Linked DNA regions of Homo sapiens. The protein of the gene in region 1 interacts with the protein of each later gene in a pairwise test. Each region holds a gene or a part of one and is shown in the gene's direction. Other genes may lie near its edges. The genes, in order: SIRT1, ZBTB38, RRP8, FOXO4, CREBZF, CSAG2 and FOXO1.

Evidence for each region.
Region 2: the proteins of SIRT1 (region 1) and ZBTB38 interact in binary tests that used the Homo sapiens proteins (3 or more experiments, as listed by UniProt).
Region 3: the proteins of SIRT1 (region 1) and RRP8 interact in binary tests that used the Homo sapiens proteins (3 or more experiments, as listed by UniProt).
Region 4: the proteins of SIRT1 (region 1) and FOXO4 interact in binary tests that used the Homo sapiens proteins (3 or more experiments, as listed by UniProt).
Region 5: the proteins of SIRT1 (region 1) and CREBZF interact in binary tests that used the Homo sapiens proteins (3 or more experiments, as listed by UniProt).
Region 6: the proteins of SIRT1 (region 1) and CSAG2 interact in binary tests that used the Homo sapiens proteins (3 or more experiments, as listed by UniProt).
Region 7: the proteins of SIRT1 (region 1) and FOXO1 interact in binary tests that used the Homo sapiens proteins (3 or more experiments, as listed by UniProt).

What each region holds. Positions count from the first base shown.
Region 1 is NC_000010.11:67,904,986-67,908,655, forward strand, and holds part of SIRT1 (NAD-dependent protein deacetylase sirtuin-1), read left to right. Parts: intron 1-1,177; exon of another isoform or gene 1,178-1,269; coding exon of another isoform or gene 1,270-1,302; intron 1,303-1,804; coding exon 1,805-1,952; intron 1,953-3,060; coding exon 3,061-3,140; intron 3,141-3,670. UniProt on the Homo sapiens protein: NAD-dependent protein deacetylase that links transcriptional regulation directly to intracellular energetics and participates in the coordination of several separated cellular functions such as cell cycle, response to DNA damage, metabolism, apoptosis and autophagy.
Region 2 is NC_000003.12:141,371,379-141,375,048, forward strand, and holds part of ZBTB38 (zinc finger and BTB domain-containing protein 38), read left to right. Parts: intron 1-3,670. UniProt on the Homo sapiens protein: Transcriptional regulator with bimodal DNA-binding specificity. Binds with a higher affinity to methylated CpG dinucleotides in the consensus sequence 5'-CGCG-3' but can also bind to E-box elements (5'-CACGTG-3').
Region 3 is NC_000011.10:6,594,556-6,597,748, reverse strand, and holds the end of RRP8 (ribosomal RNA-processing protein 8), read left to right. Parts: 3' UTR 1-2,677; downstream 2,678-3,193.
Region 4 is NC_000023.11:71,098,780-71,101,540, forward strand, and holds part of FOXO4 (forkhead box protein O4), read left to right. Parts: intron 1-1,904; coding exon 1,905-2,761. UniProt on the Homo sapiens protein: Transcription factor involved in the regulation of the insulin signaling pathway. Binds to insulin-response elements (IREs) and can activate transcription of IGFBP1.
Region 5 is NC_000011.10:85,657,489-85,659,819, reverse strand, and holds the end of CREBZF (CREB/ATF bZIP transcription factor), read left to right. Parts: 3' UTR 1-1,830; downstream 1,831-2,331.
Region 6 is NC_000023.11:152,707,759-152,710,915, reverse strand, and holds CSAG2 (chondrosarcoma-associated gene 2/3 protein), read left to right. Parts: upstream 1-1,642; 5' UTR 1,643-1,803; coding exon 1,804-2,117; intron 2,118-2,275; coding exon 2,276-2,345; 3' UTR 2,346-2,655; downstream 2,656-3,157. UniProt on the Homo sapiens protein: Drug-resistance related protein, its expression is associated with the chemotherapy resistant and neoplastic phenotype. May also be linked to the malignant phenotype.
Region 7 is NC_000013.11:40,660,106-40,663,775, reverse strand, and holds part of FOXO1 (forkhead box protein O1), read left to right. Parts: intron 1-3,670. UniProt on the Homo sapiens protein: Transcription factor that is the main target of insulin signaling and regulates metabolic homeostasis in response to oxidative stress.

The sequences.
Region 1 (3,670 bases):
GGGGTGGACGTGGATAAGGCACACAGTTAATTCAGGGACGGTGGAGTCTTGGTACTTGCTCTTTTTCCCTGACCTTGCTTTGGAGTTATTTTATTTTTTAAATTCTGCATTTGGCATGCTATTATCACTTGCTTACTATTATAGGTCCTATTTTATCTGTTGCCTAGCATATTCTCATAGTGCCTAAAATACTCTAAAAGCTATTTCCAGAGGGAGCTTTAATGAGACATACAATGCTTAATCTCTCAAATGTAAATGTACTAGAACAAAGCATTCTGGGGAAGAAAACAGTGGTTGATTTAACTGAACTCACTTTTCCAAAACAGTGGCTTTTGATTTTCTGTAAACATTGACTTTATTAAGCTTTTCCCTTGCTACTATATGCACTCTCTATTTCTTAAATTGCAAAGAGTTATTCATGAAATTTGTGATAAATATTTGAATCTAAGGCAACGTTTTTGGATTCTTTATACGAGGTTTTTAGCAGCATGTGTACATGTATGTGATAGCTGTTAACGGAATTCACTTAAGTTTTACTTAGAAGCCTGGGTAGTAGAACCTAGAAGTTGCAGTGGGAATTTTTTTTTAATTTGAAAGATTAAATAGGTAAAAAGTCATCTTTAATCTCTATTAAACTTTTTTGTATAATGTCAGAAGTGAAAGTTCCCCACATCTGCTTACAGCCTGTTTGTATCCTTCCTGACTTGATTGATTAAATGGACATCTCTATATACATATGCATATAATTTCAATTTTTGCTTAGTAACAAAAACAAAAGTTACACATACTGGTGACTAATTTGCTTTTTTCACGTATGTCATGAACCATTTTCCAGGGCAGTTCATCTAGATCTCCCTCAATTCTTTTTAATGGCTACATATTCCACTATTATGGATGTACCATATTTATACAACCGGTTCCCTATTGATGGACATATGGTTGTGTCTAGTTTTTTGCTAGCATTGTGATAGATTAGAGCCTGTAATGAATGGTAAGGAAGTAAGTAGATGATAGCACTACTACTTTGAAGGAAAAAGTAGAGAATAAACTTCCTTTGCCATAGTCACTTACTAAATGGAATTTAATAAAAACACTGTCAAAAGTTGGGAGGACCAAAATTGATACTTTTTCTCTGATCTTTTTGCCATGTGTATATCTGAATTCTTTGTTTTTAAAGAAGAAACAGCATTGAAGCATTATTTGGGGGGAAAAACACACACACAAAATCCAGCAACTCAGCATTCATGAGCAACTCTATACTATACCAGTATGTGCCTGTGCAGTGGAAGGAAAACAATTTTGGTAAGGATTAAAACTTTAGCTTTAAACTTCCAGCAGGTTGATATTCTAATGAATGATAAATCAAAAAAAAATTTTAAATATTCTTGTATTGACAGTGCTTTTTTTTTTAAATCACCCTACCTTGATATCTGTAATTTTAGTTTAAACTTTCCCATTTTTCTTTAAAGAAAAAAATCTGAATTTGCAGCCAACAAAAATTAGATATCCTAAGGTTGTATTACTTCTGACTTTTATTAAAATATCAACATTTCTTAGAGATGTTTATGGGCCGACTTTGTCTTTTTCTTCAAGGGGCCAAGTTCACTAATTGCTGAGTTTTATGCATATGACAGCAACCGTCCTTTTGTAGGTGTGTGTCGCATCCATCTAGATACTTTAAAATGCTCATCTATTTCATTTTTAAAATTATGTGTGTGGGATTATCAGTATTTTTTTGTTAAACATATGACATCTGTAGTTTATTTCACTAATGTAAATTTTTTCTACCATTTGCTTGATACAGGAAATATATCCTGGACAATTCCAGCCATCTCTCTGTCACAAATTCATAGCCTTGTCAGATAAGGAAGGAAAACTACTTCGCAACTATACCCAGAACATAGACACGCTGGAACAGGTTGCGGGAATCCAAAGGATAATTCAGTGTCATGGTTAGTAAACTTCAGAGTGGTTTTCTGTAATTTATTTTAGTTTTATAGGAAGATATTTCCTATAAAGCTGACTGCCATCGAGAAGTGGAGATAAAGCATTATTTAATCATGTTATCTCATTTATCGATAACCTCAGAAAAGTAGAAAACAAAAATAATAAAAACAGAAGTATTGGCCTTGACAGTTAATTATAGAAAACCTCAGATATTAATTTGCTTTTGATTTCAAAAGATGCTGCAGTTGCATGCATTCAATTATTTTAAATAATCTTTTCTGGCTGAGTGCAGTGGCTCACGCCTGTAATCCTAGCACTTTGGGAAGCCGAGGCGGGCAGATCCCATGAAGCCAAGAGTTCGAGAACAGCTTGGCCAACATGGTGAAATCCCAACTCTACTAGAAATACTAAAATTAGCCGGGCATGGTGGCAGGCGCCTGTAATCCCAGCTACTCAGGAGGCTGAGGCACGAGAATCACTTGAACCTGGGAGTTGGAGGTTGCAGCGAGCCAAGATTGCACCATTGCGCTCCAGCCTGGGAGACAGTGAGACTCTGTCAAAAAAAAAAAAAAAAAAGAAAAAGAAATTCTGAATACAAGAGTAGTATTAGCTGTTAATGAAGAAATGTGACATCTTTAGTTTATGAAACTAAAAGAACTGGATAGTTGAGATGTACAGGATTCAGAGATTCAGAAATGTTTAAAACAAGTATCAACAGGCCATTAGGTATCTAAAGTGTTTCTAAGAACTGCCGAGCTAAGGTAATAGAGTTGGAACTGTCCAACTCTGCAGGATTTTAGCCCTGGAGGAGTGAGCTGTTACAGTTTTGTTGAAAAGAGTAGCTTTAGAAGGCATCATTATATTAGTGTCTCAGAGATTGAGAATCATATTCATTCTATGTATAAATATATAAATTCTTCATCCCCTAGATTCTCCTGTAGTATATCACAAAATCTGCAGTGTGTTCTGAGGTTTAAAATCAAAGTTAAAAACAAAAACAAAAATCCTTAAACCCTCTTAACATTTGTGATGTTAAACTTTATAACGTTTGTGGTGTGTTCAAGAAACAGAAATACTTCTTTAATAAAGCATATATATGTTGTTTGTTTTTAGGTTCCTTTGCAACAGCATCTTGCCTGATTTGTAAATACAAAGTTGACTGTGAAGCTGTACGAGGAGATATTTTTAATCAGGTAATTTGTTGCCCATATTTTAGGAATTGTTCATGTCTCTGAAGTATTTCTTCTTTTGCCTCAAAATCCTTTTTTACCCCTTTAAAGTATATATGGTACAGAAAGATTCAGGAAGAAAATAGTTAGCATTTGGGAATTTTGGTAAAATACACGAGAACCTTTCAATACCTTATATAGAAAACAGCCCTATAAAGGCTCTTCAAATTATGAAATTGGCTTCTTAGTATCTAAGCCGAACATAAAATGTCAGATCATAAGCAAGTTGTTGTTGTAGTAGTTTTTCTCCTTCCTCTCCCTTTTTGTGCCTGTCAGATTTGGACCTTAAATTAGTTATGGTAATCTAAAATTATTTCATACATGTTCATTGCCAAAAAATATAGGAAAATTTGGCAGAAAATAAAAATTATCCAGAAATATGTCCTGTGTGCTTAGCAATATATGGAGGTAATCATGTCATTACGAAAGAGGAAGAATAGTATATTAAAATGGAGTCATTGGTCGGGTGCAGTGGCTCATGCTTGTAATCCCAG
Region 2 (3,670 bases), on another chromosome or scaffold:
GTTTCACTCTGTCACCCAGGCTGGAGTGCAGTGGCACGATCATGGCTCACTGCAGCCTCAACTTCTCAGGCTCAAGCGATCCTCCCAAGTAGCTGAGACTACAGGCATGTGTCACCATGCCTGGCTAATTTTTGTATTTTTTGTAGAAACAAGGTTTCACCATGTTGCCCAGGCTGGTCTTGAACTCCTGGGCTCAAGCAATCCACCACCCACCTTGGCCTCCCAAAGTGCTAGGATAACAGGCATGAGCCACCGGGCCCAGCCGAGAAACATTTAAAAGTAGACTAAAAAGTCTCAGGCTGGGGCTATTAATGCTACCCCAAAAGATGTGATATATATGTCTAGCTTTTTATTTTCAGGAAAAGTTTCAAAACATTTACTGAAATAATAAGTGGTAAAGTTGTAAGCTCTGTTTGGAGAACTTTTAATAAGTTTAACATTTTATGTAACCTTCTAACCATTGTTGATGTTGGTGAAGTATTCCCCTCATTCGTAAATATAAACCATATGATGGGTGCCTTGTGATGCCCCAGACTTAAAGGTGTGAAATAAAAATGAACTCAAGTCTTTGCCTGAGGTGCCTGGTACCTAGTTCTCTAGTTTTGTCAATATCTGACTAAACACTCTGGTTTCTGATTGACTTTTGCCCCTGGACTTGACCTTTCTGGCACCCACATCCACACCCTGAAGAGCATGTATTGTCTGTTGTGTGGGGATACCTGTTACTGGCCAATTTGCCACAGCTTCTCAGATATCTGACAGAGGCTGATGCCTGGCCTACTCTCCTGTTATGGCTGCCTAGCCTCTGCCCAGTCCCCTTACATTAGGATGGAGCTGAGGAGGAATGGAATAGAATAACAAGATGAGTTGCTGCAAAAATACTTCAGCCTCTGAAAGTCTGTCTTTCCAAGTTGTTAGGAACTGAAAGTGTCTATTGATCGGGGAGCTGGCTGGGCTAGTGGTATAAGCTAATGATAAGACCAGGTTGGGCTGGGCATGGTGGCTCATGCCTATAATCCCTGCACTTTGGGAGGCCGAGGCAGGTGGATCACTTGAGGTCAGGAGTTCAAGACCAGCCTGACCAACATGGTGAAACCCCATCTCTACTAAAAAAAAATACAAAATTAGCCGAGCAGGGTGGCGCACACCTATAATCCCAGCTACTTGGGAGGCTGAGGCAGGGGAATTGCTTGAACCTGGGAGGCAGAGGTTGCAGTGAACCGAGATCACACCACAGGACTCCGGCCTGGGCAACAAGAGAGAAACTCCATCTCCAAAAAAAAAAAAAAAGACCAGGTGAATGGGGAATACAGTGCCTGCTAGAAGGGTGCAGTTGAAGGAATAAGTTAAGAATATGTGCCAGATTTCAAAAGCTGGAGCCAAATGGGGATGATGTGTTGCTGGAAGTCCTAGCCTAACAGAGTCTTTCAGGAAGGGCAGAGCCAAAGGTCTCAGTCAACATCAGGGTCCATTCATGTGGGAGAATGGCTAATCACAGCTTGCTAATTTCAACTACCATCTGTTATGACTCCTCAAAGCACTAAGTATGCAGTAGTTGACATATGAATGGTGTTAGGGTTGGGGGAGGGGGCCAGCCTCCTGATTTCTAATTTCTAGCTGCATATTACTACAGGAAGGGGAGTAAGACCACCACATCAGGTACCAGAATTTCACTACTGTCAACACTTTGTGTTTGAAAGAAAGCCATAGATCCCTGTGACCACTGGATGCTGAGTGACCTCACAGACAACATCAGCAAAGCAGGATTGTGTACAAACACACATTTTGTAAATATTTTGATATTTGACATTTCAAAAAAAGCATCAAAGGAGACAGCCTGGGAAAAGTTAGACTTTGTTGAGCTTTCTCAACCTTAATTTTGTATTTTGTTATTTTTTTCTATTTTAATTTCACATGGGAGTAATAATTCAAATTTGAGGCACTATAGTCTTTTCAGAGCTTAGGTCATCTAAAGATCTGAGCCTGGCCTTGTTGAGCCATGATGAGCAGATGTGGACTGAGCACACAGTCTCACACAGGCAGCTCTTACACTAGTTGAGTATTTTAATCCCTGAGGTTTTAGAATTGTCATAGCACAGGTGTGCAAGCTCCTTTCTCCCCATGGGTCAGCATCATGAATGTTCTGTCACTCTCCTTAGAGAGTTTTGCAGAAATACCACATCATATTCACCAAAACTAAGAATTCATAGTAATAGGGCTTTATAATTTCTCACACTGAAATCCCCTAATTTCTTGTCAAGAACCAAGTTGGAAAATACCACACTTCAGGGTTTTGTTTTTAACTCAAGAAGCTTCTGGTTTTCATCAGAACTTTAAAGCTCCCTCCTACCTCCAAAATAGTATTGTTAGAAAATGTAATGCTGAGACTCTGTCAGAATAAGTAGGTGATATATGCAAAATGATATGGGCAACTTAGAAAAGTGCATGTCAAGGTAAACTGCTGATAAAGGCCGGGAGTGGTGGCTCACACCGGAAATCCCAGCACTTTGGGAGGCTGAGGTGCGCAGATTGCTTGAGGCCAGGAGTTCAAGACCAGCCCAGCCAAAATCGTGAAGCCCTGCCTCTACTAAAAATACAAAAATTAGCTGGGCTTGGTGGCACATGCCTGTAATCCCAGCTTCTTGGGAGGCTGAGGTATGAGAATTGGTTGAACCCAGGAGGCGGAGGTTGTGGTGAGCCACGACTGGGCCACTGTACTCCAGCCTAGGCAACAGAGGAAAAAAAAAAAAAAGTGTTGATAAAAAATAATCATCATAATTATGGTCAGTATTGGTGCTTTGACTTTTGATATTGTTATTATCATTATTTTAAAGATTTTTTTGTCTTTCTAAATTGACTTTCATCTGGGAGCCTTAGCATCACTTCTAACTAGCCAAAGCATGTTTGATTGTAGGCCAGACTCCCCATGGAGAGGCTTCTGATCTTATTCACAGGGACATTTAACCTGGGGTTCACTGAAACCTTTGAGGAATGATGGATGAGTCATCTCTCTGCCAAAAGAAGATGATTCCTGGCATTCTATGGGGCTCCCAGTGCATTGGGATAAGGAGGCTTGGAAACTCCTCCACGGAGGCATTGACCTTGGGTAGTGCCTTCCAAGCCAGAGTGGAGAGAGTGGACCCCTCATCTTTGTCCAAAAGAGCATTAGTATAACCCCTCACCCCAACCCCACCCCATTCTCTCCTTTTTAAAAAGAGAGAAGAATATATACAAGAAAAAAATTGGAAAAAATACATCAAAATGTTAAAAATTGTTGAGATGGTATTTTATGTGGTGTTTTGCCCCCATTTAACATTATGTTGTAAACATTTTACCAAATCACTAGATGGTCTTTGAAAACATGATTTTTAATGGCTCTATTTCCATTGCACTGATACATTTTAATGTATCAGTTTTTTGTTGTTGGACATTTTGATTCACTTTAGTGTTCTACTATTTTTAAAGTTTCTAATGCATATTGGTGAATTGGCCCCTAGAAAGGTACGAATGTCTATTTCAAAACCTTGGTCTTTTTTAGTTTCTCACATTAAAATGCATGCTGCTAGGCCCCAGTGGTATTGGAAGCTCTGAGGAGGAGCCTGGGGATATGCATTTTAACCTGCCCTCCCAATTCTTCTGCATTAATGCCTGAGAACTATTGACATGCTGC
Region 3 (3,193 bases), on another chromosome or scaffold:
CAGCTAATTTTTGTATTTTTAGTAGTGACGGGGTTTCACCATGTTGGCCAGGCTGGTCTCGAACTCCTGACCTCGAGTGATCGGCCTGCCTCGGCCTCCCAAAGTGCTGGGATTACAGGCATGAGCCACTGTGCCCAGCCAGTGTTTTTTTTTTTTTTTTTTTTATGGGAGGATGGGCAGGTTGTTAGCTGTCGAGTGCTATTGAGATGAGAGAGAACTCAGAATGCAGTGGGGTAAGGATTGCTGAGTAATGTGGAGGGCCTGTTTGAGGTAAATGGCAGTGGTAAGAGGTTGCTCCATTATGAAAGCCCTCTTCCAGAGTTCCTGATAGGGCCCCAGAAGTTCATTTCTGATTGCTTTGATTTTTTTTCAGGGGAGCAGGAAGCCAGTTTATCATTTGAGAGTGAGAATAGGGGAGAGGAAATATCTTCCAGGCCCACAGTGCATAGAAATACCCAGTCAGGGCAAAATGATTTATCTGTTTACCTCTCCTCATCACTTGGGCCCAGAGCAATCAGCAGTGATTAGGTAGAGAGGAGCCGAGCAGAGGGAAGAGCATACCAATCACTCCTCCCTTTCCCAGTGCAGGCTCCTAGACTTAGCTGGGGCAGAGCTGGGAGAGGAAAAAGGGATTTAAAACTGCAACAGGTGCAGATTATTGTTACACAGGATTAGACATTCTAATTAATTGAGATTATGTTTGTTCCTTAAACTGATCACAGGACTATCTATTAAGAACATCACAACCTCGCTGCAGCTTTTCTCCATAGCAGGGAGAGTACCTCCCAGTGAATAAAATTTGGAGGGTGGTAAGAGACAAGAATAAAATTGGGTTTGGTTATCCGTGCCTCATGCTTGTTCAGCATCCCTTTGAGAGTTCTCCAAATAAATAGTTACTGCTTCTGCAGTTATTGGTGTGCTCCAGCTTCTGTTCCCATAATATAGTCCAGTCCTAAGGGAACACAGTTCTAAAAGAAACAACATGATCTTGGCAGAGACACCGCTCAGCTCCAAACCCAACCATTTATGTAACTGCACAAAACTCTCTACAGCTTTTCACAGAGACCAGTAATTAGAACCTTTCATCCCCTGGTCATCCTCCTTCCCAGGTGAATTCTCTGACCAGCCATCTGGTTTTAGGATACCCAACTCCTGCAGTAACTGCCTTACTGGTGGTCTAATTGCTTCTACTCGTGTCCCTAAAGCAATTAATTTTCCACACAGCCATGTGATCTTTTTAAAATGTAAATCAGCTTATGTCACTTCTCTGCTTAAAATCCTTCAATGGATTCTCACTGCCTCGAGAACAAAAGACAAACTTTTCAGGCCCCGTGTGATCTTGCCCAGGCCTCCGTCACCATCACCATCTGCATCTTAACCCACTCCTCCCCTTTCACAAAACTCCAGCCACACAGACTTGCTTTTTATTCCTCAAGCTTTCCAAACTGTTTCTACTGAGAGTCTTTGCACATGCTCCATCTTCCTTGAATACTCTTTCCCCAGTGAGCTCATTTTCATCTTCCTGAATTCATACCACTATTACCTTTGCTTCTGTGGAAGAAACTGGCCAGATGCTCACCCAAATGTCCTCTTTCTGGACACAGGTAAACTGCATTTCCCAGCTCCATGCATCTAGGCCTATGTGAGTAGTTCTCAACAGTGGAAAATGAGTGGAAGTGATGTTTCAATACTAGACCAAGGCAGTTAAAGGGTGGCTGAGCCATTTCCATTATTCTCTTCCTCCTTCCTCTTCAAGGTAACCTTGAAGCACATGTTTTGACGGTGATGGAGTCATAGCATAGAAGAAGTCTGAATACCTGAGTTACTATTTAGGGCATAATAGCTACTTGACCAAAAACATCCATATTGGACTTTGAACAAGAAAATAAACTTGATTACATTCTGCTAGTGAGTTTTGAGGGTGTTTTAGCAGTTATCATTATATACACTGGATATATCTTCTATGGTATCCTGTCCACCTTACTCTTGACCACAGTACCCTCTTTGTTTCCTTCAGGGTGTTTCAGATATTTAATTATCTTGCCAGATGCCAGTCAACACTTTCTTTTTGTCCCATGAGTTTAAAATCAGGGGAAAACATGTACTCCCAATAGGAAGTTGAGATACTCTTTTTTTTTTAAATCCGTCATTGTGACTGTGACCGGAAAAACAAATCCCACTAAAGAATGTCCTAAACAGATGTTTTTTTTTGTCATATAACCTGGAGTTAGGTGATTTGGCATTGGTTCTGGAGCTGAAGGATGTTAGGGATGAGGTCTCTGTAGTTTTCTTGTCTCATGGTCACGAAATGAAGTGTTATTGATTAAGCAGGGATGCCCTACTTAGTATTAGACTTCTTGGAAGTCTCCTTAATTGCCACAGCCCCTATCTTTTTGGCTTCGTTTCAAGGGTCCTTCTACATTGTTAATACTCTGGTATAAATACGTTCCATTATTCCCTATAACATGACTGAAACCAATCTAAAGTATTAACATTTTAAATATGTTTTTGGGCCAAGTGCAGTGGCTCTTATCTGTGATCCCAGCTACTAGGAAGGCTGAGGTGGGAGGATTGCTTGAGCCCAGGAATTTCAGGCTGTAGTGAGCTATGATTGTGCCACTGTACTCCGGCCTGGATAACTGAGATCCTGTCTCAATAAATAAATAAAACAATTATATATATGTATAATATATAATATTATATATACATATGTATGTATGATGCTTTTCATCCCCACCCTTTCCCACATCTCAGGAACCTGTCAGCAACTTATCCAGTTTAAAGCTGCTGTTCCTCTACCTCAGTGGTTTGGGAGAACATGGTCATTATTTCACTCATTCTTTACTTCCTGTCTCTTCTAGGATTGGAATGGGGGAGGGCATATTAAACGAAGAAAGTCTCAGCTTACGTGATTAAGGTACCATTGGTGTGTTCTGTGCAGACAGGCATTTAACTGTTGACTCCTTTGTGAGCTCTTGGGGTTCTCTGGAGCTCTCCATGAGGACTGGGGCACTAACTGACTTTGGTTGCCTCTTTTTGATGCACAGCCCACACTGCCCTTCAGCTCTTCAGCCCCTGACCCTGACAATGTACCCACAGCCTCCTCGTGCTAAAGTGCTTCACCCTTGTACGCAGCTCTCCTGGGAATGGTCCCAACAAACCCTCAAGACTGGTTACCTTTCATGGAACCCAC
Region 4 (2,761 bases), on another chromosome or scaffold:
AGTGCCAGGTCATGGTCATTGTGGTCCTTAGTTACTATGAGGTGAGGCCGGATGGACAAGTGCCACTCCTTGAAGGAACATCAGCACAGTTGAAATGCCATTACCTCAGGGTCCCAGGAACACAAGGAGTTCTTTGGCTAAAGAACCCTGGAACAAGAAGCATCATTCCCCAGGCAAAGGTGCTCCTTATCTTAAGAGCACCAGTCAGAGAAACAAGTAGTTTCTGACCGTCCCATGTACTCAGCCTCCTAGTTGCTCTAAGCACTTCTGGGCTCCTCCTGAATTTCTAAACTAAAGACCTCCAAGTGGGAGGTCAAATGCCCCCAAGGTTGAAGAGTTTATGCACAAATTCCTGAGAAATGGGGGAAAGGCACTGGGAAGGAGGTAGGGAAAAGAAGGCAGGTTTCGGGAAGGGGGGTGGCCAGGGGAGGGCCAAACCCCTTGTGTAACTAGCCTGCCCCGCGGCAATCAGTAAATATAAGCTGCACTGGGGGCTGAAGAAGCTGCCAATCTCAGCTCCCTGGGCCACTGGAAAGCATCGTTTCCCTAGTAGAATGTCACCAGTGAGGGAGGAAGGGAAAACATACAGCTTCCAATACCCAAGGCACTGAAGAGCTGGCAGAGCCTCAAGGGGAGCCTCACCATTGTCAACCCAGGGGCAACCCACCAATCAGGTACAAATATTGATTATGTACTGTGAGCTTGAGTAGGTATAGAATATGTGCTGTGAGCTTGGTGCTCTGGGAGGGCTTTGATGGGGGATGTGGGACTGGAGGACATTACACTTGGCACTTACACTCGATGAGACGAATTACATGAAACCATAAGCCACACAATATAAATTGGGTGAAATTGTGTGGCGCAGATTTTAAAAATACTATACTAGAAATTTGGCTGCCAAAGTCAAGCAGCCGCTTTATAAAAGAGGTGGAACTGAAGCTTGGTCTTGACGGAACTAGTAAAACTTAGAGAGGGGAGATCCCTCCTCGGAAAAGAGGGGAGGGGAAGATTGCACCTCACGCATTTGAGGCACAGCAGGAAGCCTGAACCTGAACTGAATGTAGTTGAGGATGTGTGTTGTGGATTGGAAGAAATAAGGCTGGGATTCAGGGAGGGGGGAAAAAGGAATCTTTAAATTCTATAGAGAGCTGGGTGGCCCAAATGCTCTGTGGGGAATGGAGCACCTGCTGTGCTGAGATTCCAGCCCTTCAGCCTATTCAGAGAACTGGCTCTGGGCAGGGCGGGTCCATCCTGGGCTGGTGCTGTACCACTGTCCCGTAAACTCTACCCAAACCTGCACTCAAGGAAAGGGGTGCAATGCTCTTTCCCACCTGAACCTAGTTCTTGCTGGGCAAGGAGCACGTCTCCCCAGTGCCCACCAGCCCCAGGTACCGCTCCCCCCACCCCCCGCAAAACACACACGAAGCCCTGGGAAGAGCAGAGTACCAGGAGCTTTTCCAGGGTGGGCATCCCCCGTGCTCTCTGCAGTGGATTATTACACGTTATCTCCCACCCGCTGTACAGAGAAGTCTGGAGCAGAGGCTGAGCAGCTTGTCTGGGAGCGGGAAATGTGTGTGGTCTCCCCTCACACCCCACCCCCACCCCTACTTCTACCAGTTTTCCCCCCTGGATTCAACTTTCTTTGAGTCTCCAGGAATACCCCTGCTGTGTTCCAGCACCCTTTTATCTTTTATCTTTTTCTCTTTTTTTGTAAATTATTTAAAGTTTTTCTTAAACTTTAATGACCTGGGAAATGAAGCCCCGAAATGAACCCTGCTGCGGTGGTGGCACCAAATCCTAAACCCTAGATCATCAGGGTCCAGCATCCTCTTAGACTTGACCGCTGGCCACTGACCTCCCCTACAGTACCTCACGCCCCTTTCCTGCCATCTCTGCCCCTCCAGAACTCGATCCGCCACAACCTGTCCCTGCACAGCAAGTTCATCAAGGTTCACAACGAGGCCACCGGCAAAAGCTCTTGGTGGATGCTGAACCCTGAGGGAGGCAAGAGCGGCAAAGCCCCCCGCCGCCGGGCCGCCTCCATGGATAGCAGCAGCAAGCTGCTCCGGGGCCGCAGTAAAGCCCCCAAGAAGAAACCATCTGTGCTGCCAGCTCCACCCGAAGGTGCCACTCCAACGAGCCCTGTCGGCCACTTTGCCAAGTGGTCAGGCAGCCCTTGCTCTCGAAACCGTGAAGAAGCCGATATGTGGACCACCTTCCGTCCACGAAGCAGTTCAAATGCCAGCAGTGTCAGCACCCGGCTGTCCCCCTTGAGGCCAGAGTCTGAGGTGCTGGCGGAGGAAATACCAGCTTCAGTCAGCAGTTATGCAGGGGGTGTCCCTCCCACCCTCAATGAAGGTCTAGAGCTGTTAGATGGGCTCAATCTCACCTCTTCCCATTCCCTGCTATCTCGGAGTGGTCTCTCTGGCTTCTCTTTGCAGCATCCTGGGGTTACCGGCCCCTTACACACCTACAGCAGCTCCCTTTTCAGCCCAGCAGAGGGGCCCCTGTCAGCAGGAGAAGGGTGCTTCTCCAGCTCCCAGGCTCTGGAGGCCCTGCTCACCTCTGATACGCCACCACCCCCTGCTGACGTCCTCATGACCCAGGTAGATCCCATTCTGTCCCAGGCTCCGACTCTTCTGTTGCTGGGGGGGCTTCCTTCCTCCAGTAAGCTGGCCACGGGCGTCGGCCTGTGTCCCAAGCCCCTAGAGGCTCCAGGCCCCAGCAGTCTGGTTCCCACCCTTTCTATGATAGCACCACC
Region 5 (2,331 bases), on another chromosome or scaffold:
GTTGTATAAGGACTTTAGTATTGTGGATGATGGGAGTGGCTTTTTGTGGCATATGGTTGTTTTAATTGAAATATTTTTTCAGTTTATTACAAGTGTGAAAAAACACTCAAAACTCTGGATTGTTTTATTTCATTTTTGTTGGATTATGTTAATACATTCCTTCACGTGGTTTAGATTGAGTCATTTTATCTCACTTACTTGGAAATGTGCAGCTGATAGAAGAGGGATTGGGTAGGAGATTGGCTTTTACTTCATAATAAATATACAGTTGGTTATTGTATTATTCAAAACTTATTAAATCCATTCAGTTTCTTACCATTTTAAGTGTATTCAGTGCCTGTGAAGCCAGGCAGCAGAGTATTCCCACTGGCTTAAAACTTAGGCGCTGATGCTCCTACAGTACAGCTAGTTATAATTCCAGAACCAAAGGCACCAACATTATTTGGTGACCTTAACTACTACTTTGATAGAACAGACTGGGTAATTCACTGATAATGAGTCATTACCTTTTTAATATGTGATTATCTAGTTCAGCATTTTGAATGTGTAGTTTAAGGTCTGATTTAGTAAAATTTTAAAGCTAAATAATCTGATGACTCTTGAAAGTTTAATTGGTAGTATGACATTTATGTTTTTTTCCCCCAGACTCACAGCCAATACAAAGTTTTGAGACTCCTAAATGTTAATATTTTTGCTGTTTTTCTGAGCTGTTTTTTTATTTACTTACCACCTAAGCTGCGGATCAAAAAGGGAATTCTTCCATTAGAAATTTGTAGTGTTGTGTGGCCAGCACAGTATTTTTCAGATTTGAATTTCAGTACCTCTGTGTAGCCTCAGTACTCTCAACACCAGTCACTCTTTATTGTCTTAAAATATTCCATACTTTTTGTTGACCCAAAATTGTTGAAAATATTTTGCTCAGTTTTCACAATGAACTAATTGAAAAGTGTAGTTACTGTGTTGTAAACATTTGTGTAGTTCTGTTAATACACTGATTTGAATTTTATTTATCTCAACTTCCTTTAGCGTCTGCCTCCAAATTTTGTCTTTGCTGTATACCCACTGAGATCAATTCCCTAGACCCCTCTGGCTCTTAGTGTACTATAATTTGGGCTTTATAAAATATATTGTCTTAATTTAAATAGAATGTGAGCCCTCTTTTTTTTTTTTTAAGCCAAATAACTACACAAAGTAAATTATAAAAGATTTAAATAGTTTGTCTACAGTGACTAGACTGAAATATAAAAATTGATTGAGGGTAGTTTACTTCAGGTGTTAGCTACAAATGACTAAATGTCCTTAAATAATGCAGATATCTGCCCTCTGAACAAAAATTTTGGCAAAGTAAATTTGTAGCAACAGACTTAACATGATTTATTGCTTATGTTGCCCATTTCTGCTAATGGAAAAGATAATTTAAAAATATGTGGCAGAGGACAGATATTAGAAATACTTTTTGGTTACAGAAACCATTGTAAACTCATCCTCATTTATAAATGGTATTATGCTAGGGAGTAATTGGACTAGGAATGTTTAAAGATAAGTAAGGAAACAATGTGTGCTCAATCGTCAAAGAACTTAGTTATATCATTGGGCTTTGAATTATCTAAGTTGATTACATAATTCTATATTCTTAAGGAGTCTTAACTCGGTACTTGGGTTAACGCCAGAAATTACTTTTAATTCATTGTTTTTTTCACTGGGATGAGTAGAACTCTGCTTTTAGTAAAAGTGACAGAATATAGGTAAAATGGATGATTTGGGATCAGAGCTTTTCATCTTGATATTTTAGCCTGTAAAATAAACAGCTATATTGTTTTGCCCTTTAAATGTTATATATATTTTTCTGTCTTTCTTTCCCTAGTTGTAAAAGTAAAGCATATTCTTTATAGAAAACTTGGAATATCCTGAAAGGAATCAAGAAGAAAAGAAAAATCACCCTTATAACTCTATAAGCCATAGAATATCCACAGTAAACATTTTGGCATGCTTCCTTTCAGTCTCTTGTGCACATAGATTCTTTTGCCTCATAACTGGGATCATTTTTTATATAAGTTTGGTAGATAATATATTTTATGTGCCTGTTGAAAGAACAAATCATCTTTGCTTTCTGAAAAATTGAGATTGTATTTTATTAATTTCACATGAGTTTTTCATCTTTGGCAGCACAGCTTTATGTTTTTCTTTAAACAGAAGCTAAAGGCCAGTTTCACTCACAAAGATGCCTTTTCTAAATTATAATTTTAAGTAGCATAAGATGACTTAACAGATATGTCACTATTTGGAAGTAATAATTAAGAGATTCATGAATAATCTTGGATGCCACTTAAA
Region 6 (3,157 bases), on another chromosome or scaffold:
TGTGGCTTGGAACTTATTCCTTTTCATTGAGGAGTAGTATCAATGTCTGGTTATATATATATATATATATATATATATATATATATATATATATCCATTCACCAAATGAAATACATTTTGGATGCTTCTATTTTTGGTGATTATGAAATAAGCTATTGTATACATTCATATACAAATTTTTATGTAGACATAAGTTTTCAAATCAATTGGGTAAATTGATTGAGTATGGCTGCTGAATCTTGTGCTAAGTCTATTTTCATTTTTTTAAGAAAACGCCAAACTGCCTTCCAAAGTGGCTGTGCCATTTTGCATTTCTACCAGCAATGAAGGAGAGTTTCCGTTGCTCCACATCTTCGCTGGCAATTGTTCTTGGTCTTGTATTCTTTGTTTTGGTTTTCTATGGATTTTGGACATTCTGATAGGTGTGCAGTGGTATCCCATTTTAGTACACAATTATCTAATGCCAAAGGGTGCTCAGTACTTTTATTATGCTTATTTGCCATGTGTATATCTTCTTTTGTGTAGTGTGTGTTCAGATCTTTGACTATTTTCATTTTTTCTATCATTGAGCTTTAAGAATTCGCATATATTGTAGAGACAAGTTCTTTATCACATATGTGTACCGCAGATGTTTTCTGCTAGTCTGTGGCTTCTGTTTTCATTCTCTTAACATTGTCCTTTGAAGAGCATAAGATTTTTATTTTAATAAAATCAACTTGGCAAATTTTTCTTTCCTTGATCATGCTTTTGGTGTTGAATTTAAAAACTCATCACCAAACTCAAAGTTATGTGGATTTTCTCTTATGTTTTCTTATAGAGGTTGTATTGTTTTTGCATTTTTCATTAGACCTATGATGTATCTTGAGTTAGTTTTCATGGAATATGTAAGGATATGTCCAGGTTATTATAATTTGTGTATAGGTGTCTAATTGTTCCGACACCTTTTGTTGGAAAACCTGTACTTTCACCATTATTGCCTTTGTTGTGAATCACCTGACTATATGCGTGCAGGTCTATTTCTGAGCTCTATTCTGTTTTATTAATCTGTGTGTCTATTCTTTGCTAATGCTTATGTCCTCCACCAAATTCATATTTTGAAGCCCTCAGCCCCAGGGTGTCTGTATTTGGAGATGAGGCTTCTAGGGAAGTGATTAATGTTAAAAGAGGCCATAAGGGTGGGACCTTGATCCCATAGAATTAGTTTGGTTATAAGAAGGGAGAAGAGACAGAAGAAAGTACTTTTGTGCCTACATGACCTTTCTCTCTCTCTCTCTCTCTCTCTTTCTCTCTCTCTCTCTCTCTCTCTCTCTTTCTTTCTCTCTCTCTCTGCACATGCACAGAGGAAAGGCCAAGAATGGACAGATTAATAAAGGGCCATCTACAAGCCACGAATAAGGCCATCACCAGAAGCCAACCCCGCCAGTCCTTGATCTAGGACTTCCAGACTTCAAAACTGTGAGAAAAAAAATAAATTTCTGTTGTTTTAGCTACTCACTCAATGGCATTTTGTTATGGCAGCCTGAGCTGACTTAAGACATAACTTCAGGTGACACAATTTTTTTTTGTTTCCTCCTAGAAAAAAAAAAAGTAATTTTGACATTTAAAGTCTGTAGTTCATTTTGAGTTACATTTCTGTATGGTGCAAGATATGTGCAATGGCTAGTACTATGTGTCAACTTGTCTAGGCTATACTGCTCAGCTGTGTGGTCAAACAGTAGTCTAGATGTTGCTGTGAAGGTATTTTGTAGATGTGATCAACATTTACAATCAGTTGATTTTAAGTAAAGCAGTTTAACTTCCATAATGTGGATGGGCCTCATCCAATTAGTTGAAGGTGTTAAGAGAAAAGACCAAGGTTTCCTGGAAAAGGAATTCTACCACAAGACTAACATAAAAATGCGCTGTGAGTTTCTAGCCTGCTGGCCTGCCTTCACTGTCCTGGGGGAGGCTTGGAGAGACCAGGTGGACTGGAGTAGACTGTTGAGAGACACTGGTCTGGTGAAGATGTCCAGGAAACCACGAGCCTCCAGCCCATTGTCCAACAACCACCCACCAACACCAAAGAGGCGAGGAAGTGGAAGGCATCCTCTCAACCCTGGCCCAGAAGCCCTATCAAAGTGAACGGCCCACCCAAGCTCTGACTCCTACCCTGTCCTCCCCTGGCACAACCCCCACCCCAGCCTGCACCATTTCTCTATGAAGCCCCTGTTCTCACCCCTCCTCCATCCTCTTCCCCAAACCAGTGCCCTTCTTTGATCTCCCTGTTTCCTTCTAGGTTCCCAAGACAACCCGGAAGGGAAAAGGGACCCATCAAGGAAGTTCCAGGAACAAAAGGCTCTCCCTAAAAGACCGCCGCTTCAAAAAAACCTGAGGAATGGAGTGGGCCAACACTATCCAGCCACTCTGACCAGCCGAACGAGGAACTCAATCAAAATGAGCCATAGCGGGACCACAAGGGCAAGGAGACCACCACCTTCTCCAGTCTCTCTTCGGACAGCCAGTAATTCCCGGGCAAGGCCAGAGACTTCAAGTCTATCTGAAAAGTCTCCAGAGGTCTAACCCCAGATAAATAGCCAACAGGGTGTAGAGTACATTTTACACCCCAAAGAGTGTGCCCCATGGTGATGAAAATAAAGTGAACATGTTGCAAAATGATGTGTGTGTCTGTGTGTCTCAAATGGTAGGGGTAGGGAGTAAGGGGAAAGAGGTGGGAGTGTGGGAAGGGAGGGGGGCATCCTCTACAATTTCTCTAATTCAACTTGCTCTTCGTTCTTTGGTTTCCTAGGGTGAAACTTTTGGTTATTGATTTTAGATTTCATTTTCTAATATAAACATTTAAAATATGCTATATATTTCCCTCAAGGACACACTTTAGCAGAATCCCACTTTTTGTATGTACATTTTTACTTTCATTCAACTTAATGTATTTTTAAAATTCTCCTGGGACTCCCTCTTTGACCCATAGGTTATATAGGAGCTTATTTTAAAATTTCCAATATTTGGGCATTTTTCAGATATCTTGGTGTTTGGTTTTGAGTTTAATTATATTATGGCCTAAGAAGAGGCTATCTATTATTTCTATTCTTTTCAATTTGTAAGCTTTGTTTGATGGCCCAGAATACCATCTATCTTGGGAGATATTTCATGCACACTTGAG
Region 7 (3,670 bases), on another chromosome or scaffold:
TGTGTTTTAGAGTAAAGGTATCACTTATCGCTTCATTACCAGGCATTACATGCAATTTTACCAAGTGTTTCAAAAAAGTAAAGTGCCTTCTTACCGTTAAGTTCAGCATATATTCTATTAAGTCACAAAATCGAAATTGTCTGCCAAATCTTGTTTTACTTAACATTTGAATTTAAGTACTTGACTTACTTGCTCATCTATCAATTCCACTTCAGCTGTTACAGAGTATTAGCCATTTAAAAAAAAAATCCTCCCCCCTTTTTTTGCATTCAAAGTACAGTGTGTACTTACACCATTCTTTAGTCCTTGGAAATGGATACAACCTACTTCAACTTGCTGGAGTGCCTTTCTTTAAAGATAAAGGAAGTGTTTTGGGATATTTTTAGTTTTGCGTCTCAAATGGCATTGTCAGAGTGTTAGTCTTAAACTAGGAATATGCTTACACTTTTTAAGATTTAGGTTTTTAAAAAATAGATTCTGATGTTAAATCATCTTTACAACCATTTTTATCAGGTTCTTGTTCTGATTTTTTTAAAAATGCAAGAATAATTTAGTTTTTTTTTAAATTTATTTGCCAGAGCTAGGAGACCTGTTAAGTTATCTGTCTGGAATTGGAGGCCCTTGGGCAGCTCCCAGTGGGAGCCTAATGGGGCTTTGCTTTGGAGTAGGCTGCCTTTCTCAAATGAGTAAGTGTTTCAGGTGTAATGTCAGTTGGTTTAAGTCTGATTGCAGCAAGTACATTTTCAGTTTGAGTAAAAGGGTATTTTAAGAAGAAAAGAAACAACCTGAGCTGTTCTAACTCATAACTAGTCTTTTGGTTAGTTTCATAAAAATGAGTTACTTGTTAAAACCAAGTTTCACTCTCAGATCTGAAAGACTCCTGTTCTAAGAGTCATAAAAGAGAAATTTTACTATGAATTTTAACTTAAATCCAGTTTTTAAATGCAAAGCAACCAAAACTTAACTGTTTTAGGACCGAGGAGAGGTTGCTTTGGCACAAAATATTTCCTGTGATTTACTACTGGGAATTAGGCTGAATCTTTAATTAAATAGTTTCTTGTGTGCTGCTTCCTGGGGCCTGCCTGAAAGTTTGAGTCATTTGCATAGGACAAACTAGTTGGAAAACTGTTAATGAATTCAAAAACTTTTAATGTCATTCTTTAGATAGTTAAGTGCTGGTTATATTTGAAGGATATGCATTTTGTGTTTGTGGGGATGGTATGTTAAATGTCTTACACTTGTTGTAATATTGGCTAGAATTGCTATAAGGTCACACACAAAGTGGAACCTAAGACTTTTGGAAAACCCGGGATCTTCTAAATCTAGTGCAGTATTTATAAATAATGAAACTTCATTTCCATGACCTGTTTTTTCACATAGAAAGCCTTCTAAAGCTTGGGAAGTGGTAGTTTGAACTCTGATTTTTTTTAATAAATGGCAGTTTTGAGTTGACTCTTTTGATATTATTAGGAACACTTTAGGTTAAAAGAATGACTTTGACTATACCACTTAACTCTTGTTAAATAAATTTTTAGATTGTTTTATTAGAGGTATCCTCTTTGATTTAAAGATAAATATCTTTTTTTTTTTTTTTTTTTTTTTTTTGAGTCAGAGTCTCACTCTGTTGCCCAGGCTGGAGTGCAGTGGCGCAATCTCGGCTTGCTGCAACCTCCGCCTCCCAGGTTCAAGCAATTCTTCTGCCTCAGCCTCCCGAGTAGCTGGGACTACTGGCACGTGCCACCATGCTTGGCTAATTTTTGTATTTTTAGTAGAGAGGGGGTTTCACATATTGGCTTGGCTGGCCTCGAACTCCTGACCTCGTGATCTGCCTGCCTTGATCTCCTAAAGTGCAGAGATTACATGCGTAAGCCACCGTGCCTGGCCCCAAAGCTTTTTATTTTTAAGATAAATCTTTAATTGGGAGTGATGTTTCTTATTTGGCCTATGAACTGACAGTGGATTTCCTTATGTTTTGAAATAAATATTCTGTAATTTGGGTATAATCTATAGGTGAGTAATTGAACCAGCCACAGAGATCCCGTTAGAAAGATGGCTGCTTTTTTGTTGCATGGTCACATTTGACTTAGAGAATCCTGGTGAGACCGAGTGGTTAGAGGATCTGAGACATCTTTCCTACTTCTGGATTGTCACTGAAATTACCTTAAAGAAAGCCTTGATAGGCTGGGCGTGGTGGCGCACACCTGTAATCCCAGCACTTTGGGAGGCTAAGGTGGGCGGATTGCCTGAGCTCAGGAGTTCAAGACCACCCTGGGCAACATGGTGAAACCTCATCTCTACTAAAATACAAAAAATTAGCCGGGTGTGGTGGCAGGTGCCTGTAGTCCCAGCTATCGTGCCAATAATCCCAACTACTCGGGAGGCTGAGGCAGGAGAATCGCTTGAACCTAGAAGGCGGAGGTTGCAGTGAGCCGAGATCACGTCACTGACCTCCAACCTGGGCAACAGAGGGAGACCCTGTCTCCAAAAAAAAAAAGAAGAAAGCCTTGATAATCCTGTATATGTACTTGGGGAAGCGATAATGAAGAAATAATTTAAAATGGATGAGGGGGTTATGCAGCTAAATGTAGCATCTTATTAAGGGCTGAAAGTTACCTGAATCTATTTGAGAGCTAAAACATTTTGTTCAGAAATTCCAAAATAGATGCCAAATTGGAATACTTCATTTCAGACTCCCAAGAGCTTTACTTTTTACGCATGGTTTTGTGGCATGTCCTTGGTTGAGGGGATGGCGAGAAGAGTGGCCTCTTTTTGAATGATTCTCATTTTTGTTGTTGTTGTTGTTGTTGTTGTTGTTGTTGTTGTTGTTTTTCTGAGCCAGGGTCTCACTCTGTTGCCCAGGCTGGAGTGTAGTGGCTTGATCTCAGCTCACTGCAACCTCTGCCTGCCCCTGGCTCAAGTGATCCTCCCACCTCAGCCTCCCGAATAGTTGGGATTATCGGCACGAGCCACTGCTCATGGACTAGTTTTTTTTAAGTGACAAACACTTGACTATTGAAAATAAGGCATTTTAATTCTCATGTAAACTTGAAAAAAGTTAAAGGTCTTCAAGATCCCAAAATTGCTGAAAAGGTATCACATTAGCAGCAGACACATAGATTTCATGCTCCGCACACACAAGGAATCTTCTCCGAGGCGATACGAAATGGGATGAGGGGGAAGAATATTCAGTGGCAAGTTAGAATGCCTTGCAGACTGTAAACATGTTGCCTGTCCTTGTGCTTCTAGCCCCTTCATCCAAGCATCTAAACTGCAGTTTTGTGTTAGGCTTTCTAAGATAGCAGCTGTATTTGGCTGGAATTTCTCTGGGGAAGCCTGAATGATTTGCATTTTTCTGGAACACTCTGCCCTTGGAAACTACCCAGTTCCCTGGCATCATGGGAATTTACCCAGCCATTTTTTTGGCCTATATGTGCTGTAGCTTTGGGGCTTTTTGGGGATCCTCTTGGAAAGGCAGTGTAAATACCACATAGTGATTGGGGAAGGCAGAATTTTCAATTGTGTGGGAGTTGGTCTGCTTCCCTGCAGTTCAAGATTTGCCTTTGCCTTTGTAGCAACAACTTGCAGAGACTTGCCCAGCCCCCCCAGGATCTCCCTGGGGTCATATAACCAAGCACCTTTTCTTGGTACATAAAGAATTCTGATGCTTCTG